Linked DNA regions of Homo sapiens: region 2 is linked to region 1. The links come from fine-mapping of genetic effects on gene expression. A gene starts in region 1. The other region holds a variant in brackets. All regions are shown on one strand. Distances are between the middles of the regions. Region 1 holds the start of NAA35 (N-alpha-acetyltransferase 35, NatC auxiliary subunit). Region 2 overlaps NAA35 (N-alpha-acetyltransferase 35, NatC auxiliary subunit).

What was found.
Region 2: its variant is fine-mapped to the expression of NAA35 in whole blood (TOPMed, PIP 0.96).

What each region holds. Positions count from the first base shown.
Region 1 is chr9:85,938,946-85,944,333 of GRCh38, reverse strand. It overlaps NAA35 (N-alpha-acetyltransferase 35, NatC auxiliary subunit), which reads right to left and starts at 3,188. Exons shown (of 23, transcript NM_024635.4): 1 at 3,061-3,188; 2 at 2,051-2,179. The coding sequence starts at 2,174. RefSeq lists a silencer at 2,605-3,284.
Region 2 is chr9:85,969,814-85,975,201 of GRCh38, reverse strand. NAA35 (N-alpha-acetyltransferase 35, NatC auxiliary subunit) reads right to left here. Exons shown (of 23, transcript NM_024635.4): 7 at 169-235; 8 at 45-88. Among named protein-coding and RNA genes, the nearest start is that of NAA35, 31 kb to the right of the region's middle. The variant G/C (reference allele first, on the strand shown) is at 2,764.

The DNA of each region.
Region 1 (5,388 bases):
CTTGAGTAACAACAGTTACCATCATTGAATGCTACTATAGAGTACTTTACATCCACTATCTCATTTAATCCCCAAAATTCTCTAAAGTAGAAGCTCTGTTTTCCAGAGTAGAAAACTAAGATTCAGATTAATTAAACTCCAAGGAAACTAAACTAGTAAGTGACAGAGTTAGGACTCCAGCTCATATCTGACTATAAAGCTTACTACATTACTTACTGAGAAGCTACTTGGTCCAAGCCACTGTACTGATCATCAAGGGGAACAAACTTTCAATCTTATGCTCAAATCCATTACTCCTACTGCCTATAAAACAAGCTCAAACCAAAAAAACAAAAACAAACAAAAAACATCAATGGCACTAAAGACGCTCTATAATTCCCAGCATTTAAAATTGTTTTGTGGCCAAGTAAAATTATTTACTGTTCCCCTAACATAAAAACCTCACCAAACTCTGACTCACATAGTTCATCTCAGTCTAGAATAACTCTATCACCTCCCTTTGCAAAAACTTGATCTCTCCTTAAGGCCCAACCCAAGCCATATAACCTTCAAAAACCTTCCCTATTTAGGTTAATAATGACAGCCCCCTAATAGAGATTACTTAAAATCAGTGCAAGATGACAGGTATAATCCACTTAATAGTCTAAGATCTCTGAGCACAAAAACTACACTGTAACTTGACATTTCTTTCTCTCTTCCTTAGATAGACATACATAGGCAGTCACCCAACTCCCAGTCTTACGTCCTTTCCACTGTCTCACTGAGGCTATAAAAAGTGATTTCAAAACAAAGGATGGCACATGATTTATCATTTTGCTTATACACAGCTGGCTCCCTTTCCACCTGCAGGTGCCCCAAGTCTTTACTCCTCCCCTTCAGAGCACTATCCAAACACACCCTACCTATCATCAAAAGACCTAAGCTGCTTGAGACAATACAAGCCATCAGGAGTGAATTCCTTCACCAGTCCTCCTCTGTCACTTAGAAATATACTTTTATCTTCATCCTAACTTCAGTCCTTCCTGTCTCAGTGTGTCCCTGTGCTTTTCCCCAATTTCTCTACTATCTCCTTGATCTCATCCTCTCTTTAACGTTCAAGCTCTCACTCTAGTTAATTTGTTCCTTTCTCTTATCTTCAGTCTCTCCCTAGACTCTTTCCCCTCAAGCAACAAGCATGTTCATTTCTCCAATCATTTACTCCTATTTATTGAATTTACTATGTGCCAGGAACTGTTCTGTATACTAGGGTTACAGAAATTATCTCTGCCCCCACGGAGCTTATATTCCAGTGAGTGAGACTGAAAATAAACAAGAAATAATTGACAATTATGGCTTCTGAAAAAGATAAGCTGTATGAAGAAAATAAAAAGTGATTCAACTGAGGTGGAATTGCAGAGGAGAGAATGAGTGGTTGTTTTGAGGTCCTCACCAGGGAGGTTAACACTTAAGAAGAATTGTGTGAAAGCGAGGGGCAAAGCAATTTAAAAGAAAGAAAACAAAAAATGCAAACACCTGGGAGAACCACCTTGGTGTGTATTACGAAGAGATAAAAAAGACCTGTGACTGGAATGTAATAAGCCTGGCGGGGACAGTGGCACATAAATGAAACCTGAGTGGCAGGCAGGGACCAGATTTTATAGACCCATAGGGAAGGAGGGTGGATTTTATTCTACCTGCAACAGGAAGCCACTGGACAATCTTAAACAAGGAATGATGTGATCTGATCATACTGAAACCTCAAACATACAAAAATACTATTATCTTTTAGATTAACAAAGTGTTTTCCACAGTTAGAAATTACTGCTCTCTCTAACCTGTTAAAGCAAGAAAAATTCAATTTTAAAATACTGCCTCAACATCTGTATTTAATGCTGTATCAAATATACATTTGCTTTAAAGTTAAAATTAGAGGATACAGAATAAGTGTGGCTAACAAACTCAACAAACCACATTTACCTGTTGATTTCATCTAATGAGGTAAGTTTAGAAAGCACAATCGTCATTCTACCCCTTCCAGATGCTGAACTTCTAATCCAAAAATCAGACTCACCTCGACAAGCTTCTTCAAAATCTTGGGTAATGTCCACCCAGTTTGTATTGCTTTTCTCCATTTTTTCTGGCATACTGAGCTCCCATCCTGAATCGTCATCATCTACAGAAGCTTTCATAACCATTATGCCTGTAAAATTAATACTGATGTAAGAGAGAGGATGTAGCTTTCAGGGCAAGAGTATTTGCAGAAATGGGTGTTTGTTTCAGCATAGGATGAAGTCTTAACTAAACTCTTTAAAGCAGAACTCTTCTGAGTCTAAGGACAGTACTGCAAAGAATAACCTTAATGCAATCAAATCGCACGTCAATTAACACTCCTGCTGCTTACTATTAGCCCACCACCTACCAGGGCCCATAAACATTTTGCCTTCCTACTGTTTAAGAAGAAAAATCACAAACCATCTCACCTCTGGCCCGAAAAGAACAACTCCAGAGCTTCCAACTTTCAATAATAGCCACAAAAGACCAAGGCACTATTCAGGGTCCCCTCTCGCAGCCCAGGACCCCATGCGGCAGCTACCGAAGTCAATCAAGGTAGCCCTTCATCTGGCCAGAGCTCGCTGGGACCTCTCCCGGGCCAGAGCCGGCCCGGACCCAGGCAGAACCTCGCCGGGAGCAATGAGGAGCCGGCAGGCACCGCAGGGTCCCGCCGGCCGGGCCTAGGGCCGAGGCACACCTGAGGCGGGCACACGCTTCCCTTCCGCCCTGCCCGGGTCAGCCCAGCCCAGCCCCGGTCCCACTGGGCGCATAAGCAAGGACAGAGCTGTCGCCGCGCGGGAGGGCGGGCACGTCCGGCGCCGGGTCGTCGCCTCGGCAACACCGGGCAAGAGTGGGGCCTCGGCCGACAGCGGGCACTGGGGAGCCCGCCGCTCCTACCTGACGCGCAGCGGGAGGGCCGGGGCCGCAGGGTGACCTGGGGTCCCCAGGATCTGCCACACGCGCGGGGGGCTGCGGCTCTCGGACACACGAGCGAGAGGGTTTCAATGGCTACGCAGGGGCGGTCCCTACCTACTTCTCCCGTGGTCACCCGCGCCGCCACGCACTGTCCGGACCACGGAAATAACGACGCCGCCTCGGCCGCCGCCGCCCCCTCCCCTCTCAGCCCAGCCCGACCGGCAGCGTGCACGCATGCGTATGCCCGGGACGCGCGACCCCGCCCCCTCTCCCTTACTCCCGGGGACTTCGCGCTCCCCGGCCACACCCCCTCCCTCGCCACCGCCTCCGTTCGGCCGATGGCGGCCGCCTTCTCTTCTCGCGAGATTAGAGACGATCGCGAGACCGGAAGTTATCTTTTTTCACCCTCTGTCGGAGTCCTGGGTAGTGGGCGGTTCCCGGAAAGAGGCGGAGCCCGGAGTCTCAGAGCCCGCCCCGTCTGCGCTGCCCTCTGGGAATTTCTTAGAAAGGTGACGCGAAGGCGGAAGGAAACCGTGGAGGTTTGCGTAGACCTTAGTGGTTGCGAGCACGAACGAGCAGCCAAGCTCCGAGAGCAACAGCGTGCTACTGCTGCCTGACAACGGATTTATGTTTCCTATACAGCGCCTGGGAGTTTCGTGAGGAAACATAGATTCAAAATATCTGCAAAGTCAAGCCAGACATTTAATTTCAGATTCTTATATGTTTTAGATTTTTTTAATTTATTAATAAAATGATCAGTTTTTAAATGGGGTTACATAAATAGACGGGCGCAGGTAAGAAGCACATCTTTATCACCACCTGTTCTTTAGGATGGCCCAAAATTAAAAGATGGAAAAGATAATACCAAATGTTGGCAAGGATGCAGAGCAACTGGACCTCTGTTATGTTGGTGGTGGTAATGCAAAATGGTACAACCACTTTGGAAAACTTAACAATCTCTCCTTATAATCATATACTTATCATTCGATCCAGTAATCTACGAATTTACTTAGGAACAAAAACATATTCATACAAAGGCTTGTACGTTAATGTTCATACCAGCTTTGTTTTGCTTTGTTTTTGTTTTTGTTTGAGACAGAGTGTCACTCTTGTCGCCCCTGCTAGAGTGCAGTGACCTGATCTCGGCTCATTGCAACCTCTGCCTTTCAGGTTCAAGCAATTCTCGTGCCTCAGTCTCCCGAGTAGCTGGGATTACAGGCGCCTGCCCCCACACCAGGCTGTTTTTTGTATTTTTAGTAGAGATGGGGTTTCACCATGTTGGTCAGGCTGATCTCAAACTCCTGACCTCGTGATCTGCCCACCTCAGCCTCCCAGAGTGCTGGGATTACAGGTATGAGCCACCGTGCCTGGCCCAGCTTTGTTTTTAATCATCAAAAACTACAGACAACCCAAATGTCCATCAACTGTTGAATAAAAACAATTTGTGGCATATCCATACAATGTAATGAATGTAATTATCAATAAACAGGGATAAACTACTTGACATACAACATGAATGAATTTCAAAAATATATTGAGTAAAAGAAATCAGGCTGAGCTTGGTAGCTGGTAGCTCATGCGTGTAATCCCAACACTTTGGGAGGCTGGCAGTGGAGAGGTCGGGTTGGAGACTAGCCTGACCAATATGGTGAAATCCTGTCTCTACTAAAAATACAAAAAAATTAGCCAGGCATGGTGGCGTGCGCCTGTAATCCCAGCCACTTGGGAGGCTGAGACAGGGGAATCCCTTGAACTCAGGAGGCAGAGGTTGCTGTGACCCGAGATGGTGCCATTGCACTCCAACCTGGGCGACAGAGTAAGAAATCAAATGCAAGAGTATGATTCCCCAAGTGAGACCCCAGGCTCTTAAAAGACATCTATAGTGACAGAAGACAGATTAGTGGCTGCTCAGGGCTCAAGAAGAGACTAAGTTGGATAGAGCTTGATTTGAAGTGATGTAAATATTCTGTTTTCGATTAAGGTAGTGCCTGTGTGGGTGAATACATTTGTAAAATTTCACTGAAGTATATACTTACAATGTGTACATTTTATTGTTTGTAAACCGAACTTCACAAAAATTGGTTTAAAAAATTTTTAAATGGCCGGGCGTGGTGGCTCACGCCTGTAATCCCAGTCCTCTGGGAGGCTGAGACGGGTGGATCACATGAGGTCAGGAGTTCAAGACCAGCCTGGTCAACTTGGCGAAACCCCATCTCTACTAAAAATACAAAAATTAGCCGGGCGTGATGGCGTGCACCTGTACTCCCAGCTACTCAGGAGACTGAGGCAAGAGAATCGCTTGAACCTGGGAGGTGTAGGTTGCAGTGAGCCGAGATCATGCCACTGCACTCCAGCCTGGGCAACAGAGCAAGACTGTCTCAAAAAACTTTAAAAATTAAGAATGCATATCTCTCTTACAGAATAATTTCCCAAAGGCAGAAG
Region 2 (5,388 bases), 31 kb before region 1:
TAGAAGTGTACCAAAACCCCACACCAAACAGAAAACATATATACCTTTACTCTTCTTTGCATGTCATCCTCCACATCTTTTAGCATGCCTAGAAAAAGAAACAATAAGTTTTAAAAGGAAACATATGAAAATGTAAAACTTGTGAATTAACTTTAAAAATAATTTTACCTGTAACTCGAAGATCTGTCACACTGTTAGCCATTTTAAATCCATAAGTCATTGACTGAAAATCTTCCTATACAAAAAGGAAATAATCAGGCTCATGAATAGCAAAAAACCTTAAATAGCGGCAAAATATAAAACTTTTCTTTATATTTCTCTTACAAAATCACTATTTAATAAACAAAGAGAAATGGGAGGTCATCCTGCTTGTCTAAATATTGCTAGGATACACACAAGCTTTTCTTGAAGGCATACACTTAAAACACCATATTCAAATGTTGTCTCTGTCCTTACTTTCAATTGCTTGTCCTTAGGCAATTTAATACGTTCACTTGCCATATAAGGGTAATGCTTAAGAAAATATCGCACAGTAATAATTCTCACAAAGTAGTCTCACATTCACAGGTGAACAGTAAATATGTAATAATTACTGTTAAATGACCGTGCTGCAAGATTTAGATAAGACTACTTAAAAAATTATTAAGTGACTGCTTGCACAGTTAAGATTTCTCAAACAGAATTATTCAAAGTGAGAGTAAAACCATGTTCCACTATAGTCCATTGGAAGGAAAAAAACTGAGTCATTCAGACATAGGACCCCCATTCCCCAAATCATTTTTTAAATGATTTCATTGCTGAGTCATTAACAAATTAAGTGATTTGCTGGACTTCCTTTGAAGAAAATACATTTACTGTCATCTGGCTGATTTGATTAACAAGTCATATGCCCCATTAAAAGAGTGTTTCTGCCTACTATAATTCCTATAAAAACATAGCTAGGGGCTGGGCATGGTGGCTCGTGCCTATAATCCCAGCACTTTGGGAGACCGAGGCGGGTGGATTACCTGAGGTCAGGAGTTCACGACCAGCCTGGCCAACATAGTGAAACCCCGTCTATACTAAAAATACAAAAAAATTAGCCAGGCATGGTGGCATGTATCTGTAATCCCAGCTATTTGGGAGGCTGGGGCAGGAGAATCACTTGAACGCAGGAGGTGGAGGCTGCAGTGAGCAGAGATCGAGCCACTGCAATCCAGCCTGGGCGACAGAGTGAGACTCTGCCTCAAAAAAAAAATGTAGATAGAATCCTAAAATAACAGAACAATAGTTTCAAAAGGGGATGGAGCTACAGCACAATTTCTGGATTCTTAAAAAAAAAAACAGTGAGCATCAAATTCAAGTGAGGTACTATACCCCACAAACAGTAAGAAAATAAACCCAATGTCCTTGGTCTCAAAGAACTCAGGTGTATTTTATGACTTACATGATCAAATCCTTAAAAAAAAAAAACACTCATCATATTACAGAGCTATATAAGCTTATTCTCTTTTATAGTCTGTCTCTACTTGGACATCAAACAGGATTCTCAAATTTTACATCTCCAAAAAGGAGCTTGACGCCTACTTCCTAGTGTTTACCATACCACTAAATGGCACTACTACCTATCTAGAGTTGCTCAGGCTGAAAACCTGGCCTCTACTCCTCTCGTTTTTCTACATCCTGTATCAAATCTACCAGAAAACACTGTAGGCTCTATCTTCAGATTCTAGTCTAACTACTTTTCACCCTTTCACAGCTCTCTCTAGTTTAAGTCACCACTATTGCTCACTCTTGTAACCACCTCCAGACAACTCCCCCACCTACCACACTAGTCCCTGCTATAATTTATATACCACCAGAAGGCAGAAGGATTGTCTGAAAATAAGTCACATCATGTCATTTCCTATTCAAAACCTTTCAATAGTTTTCTACCTCATAGCAAAATCCCTAAGTCCACCATGGCCTCTATGGCCCTACATCACATGGCCCGGTCTCCCTCGCCAACTTTATTTCCTACCACTTCACATTCACTGCACTGCAGTCTGACAGGTCTTTCTTGTCATTCAAACATACCAAACACGTTCTCCTCTCACGGCTCCCACACCAAAATGATTTTCTTCAAAATATTTACAAGGTTTCATCCCTTATATTCCAGCCTCTGTTCTAATGTCAATTCCTCAAATAGAGATTTTCCCCATGCATTCTAAGACAGCACCATCCACCATTTTATATCCCCTTAGCCTGCTTTACTTTTCTTCATGGCACTTAATCACCACCTGACATTATATGTGTATTTAATTACATATACATTGACTATCTGTCCCAAGAAAGGTATAATCCATGAGATCACGGCTTTATTTACTACTTCACCTATAGGACTTAGAATAGTGCTAAACAGACTTCTATTCAATAAATATGTGTTCAACGAATGACTTATTCCAGGGCAGGGGTCATGAACTCAAAAGGCAGGTTATCTTCCTAAATACATCTGGCTAGCTACAACATACACTAGGGAATGGTAGAGACTGGCAAATTGGAAAACATATGCTTCATTTAAAAGGAGTCAGCCACTACTTATCCTGTTGTGGCTATGAATGAATACAGGGCCAGTGTGGTCAGGTCTCCTAATTTTTCAGAAAAAAATTTAGGTTTTTCTTTTTCAACATAAAATCTCCACCCCCCGACCCTTTTTTTTTTTTTTTTTTTTTTTGAGACAGGGTCTCACTGTCATCCAGGCTCGAGTGTAGTGACGCAAACTTAGCTCACTGTAACCTCCACCCC[G/C]CTCTGGGCTCAAGCAATCCTTCCACCTCAGCCTCCTAGGTAGCTGGGAATACAGGCATGCACCACCACACCGGGCTAAATTTTTTTGTATTTTTAGTAGAGATGAGATCTCGCCATGTTGTCCAGGCTGGTCTCGAACTCCTAAGCTCAAGTGATCCACCCATCTCAGCCTCCCAAAGTGCTGGGATTACAGGTGTGAGCCACCACATCCAGCTTCCTCTTCCTTTTTTAAAAAATCAGACAAACACTGTGGAGGAAAAACAACAAAACAAAAATATCCATAAAACTTATCTGTAAGTTTGCCAAGAAGAGTCTTAGGAAAACTTTCTGGAAGAACATCACAAGTCCTGGGAATATAAACCTCAGTAATAAGAATTTAATCTAAGTTATTGGATAAGTGAGAACAAGAGAGTCATGTAAACAGACTGCTACCATTAAAGATCACTCTTGAAGATTTGTGGACTTGAGGACAGAAGTCAGAGTGAAACTAGGGAGATCAGACATTGGACTCTATCCAACAGTCCAAGCAAGGGCTGATGATGACTTGGATTGGGATTGCAACAGTGGGGAGAGTAAGAAGTTGGTTAAAAAAAAAAAAAAAATCAGGATATATTTCAAAGGTAGAGCTAACATGATATGCTGATGAACTGAATGTGGATATGAGGTAAACTATACAATCAAGCCTCATTTTTAGGGTTTTGGTCTAAGCAGGTGATGGTACCATTTCCTGGGATAAGGCAGTATTTGGGAGGAGCAGGTGTAAGGGCAGAAATGAAGTATAATTTTGGTTATATCAAGTTTGTAATTTCTTTGATCATCCAAGTGGAGATTTCAGATTTCACTTGCTTGAGACTGAAGTCAGGGAAAGACTCAAGCCTAGAGGTATAAATTTGGACTTCATCATTGTATAGTTAGTTGATACTGAATGCCACAGAACTAGAGGAAATCAACCTAGGGAACAGTTATGGAGGAGGGAGGGAGTCCAGGAGTACTCTAGCAATTAGAGACGTAAGCACAGGAACTAGGCTTACCAGTGAGGCAGAAAGAAATCCAAAAGACTGGTATTAAGAAGACAAAGAGAAAAAAGTATTTCACAGTGTGTCAACCGGGTCTAACGATGCTCACAGGTTGGAGAGGGAGGGGTGAGAACACTGAATTTAGCAAGATGGGTAAAGACCAGTTCTCTGTAGTGGTGGTAAAGAATGACCATTTGGAGTAAATAAAGATAAAATGAAAGAAAAAGTAACATAAGCAAATCATTAAAGACATTTTTCCTGGCAAGTAGCTGGGAAATGGGACTGTAGATACAAGGAGCCATGGGATCAAGGAAACTGTGGTGTTTTCAAATGAATGTAAAGCATGTTTACATGCCAATAAGAGTAAGCGAGTAGTGAAGGAGAGCCTAGTAATGCAACACAAGTGGAGGAGCTGAGCTTAGATTATAACAGGAATGCTTTCATCTTAACAAGTGAGAAGACAGTTTGTGAGTATTAACAAACAGGTTAGCACTTGTGATAATGACAAAATGAAACCTTCAAGATTAAGTTGCAGACTATGACGCCCCTTTACTTCTAAACACTTCAGCGTGATTTCCTAAAAACAAAATCTTCCTCTTGCATAATCACAGTACAATTACCAAATACAGAAATTCATGTCTCTAACCTCCTTTAATCTGGAGCATTTCCTCTGTCCTTAACATTCATATCTGACACTTGGAAGTATCTTTTCAAACAGTACTTCAAAATAGTATATTTTGAATAGTACTTTGTAGTATACATTTTGTAGTATATCCCTCAGTAATGGGTGTGCCTGATATTTCTTCAAGATTAAATTTAAGTTATATCATATTTGATAGGAATGCCACAGAAATGATGATGTGTCCTTCCTAGAGCACTGTATAAGCCGGCACGTGTCAATCTGTCCAATTACTAATGGTAATTCTGGCCACTTGACTAAGGTGCTATCCGCCAAGTTTCTCTATCACAAAGCTATCATTTTTCCCTTTGTAATTAATAAGTATCTGGTGGAAAGATATTTTGAGACTAGGTATATATCCTGTGGTGTCTCATTATACTTCTGTCCAGTAGTTGCAGCATCCTTTGATTGCCAGAAATAAGTATTCAAAAACTGTACTCTTCACACAATACTATGCAGCCAAAACATTAATATTTTAGATATACTGAATTAAATAAAATATAGCATTAAAATTATTTTCACCCATGGCCACTAGAACACTAAATCGAACTATACATGTGGCTTACATTATATTTCTATGGTATAGTTCTGGTTTACAGAAAGAGATAACAGTCAAGAACCACCAGTGAGGTAGCAAACCAGGGAAGAAAAGCATCTTAAAAGCCATGCAAAGAATGTATTTTGAGGATGGAGTGATGACTACGTCAAAATCTGCTGGTAATTCAAGTTTAAGACCAAATCTAACCACTGAATTTAACACTGAGGTCTTTGATGACTGTGACACAGTAGTTTTAGTGAAAGGTGTAAAGCCTGACTAGAGCAGAGAGAAAAAGAAGAAAACCAGAGACACTGAATATGAACACATCTTTTTTTTTTTTTTTTTTAAGAGACAGAGTCATTTGACCATCCAGACTGGAGTGGAGTGCAACT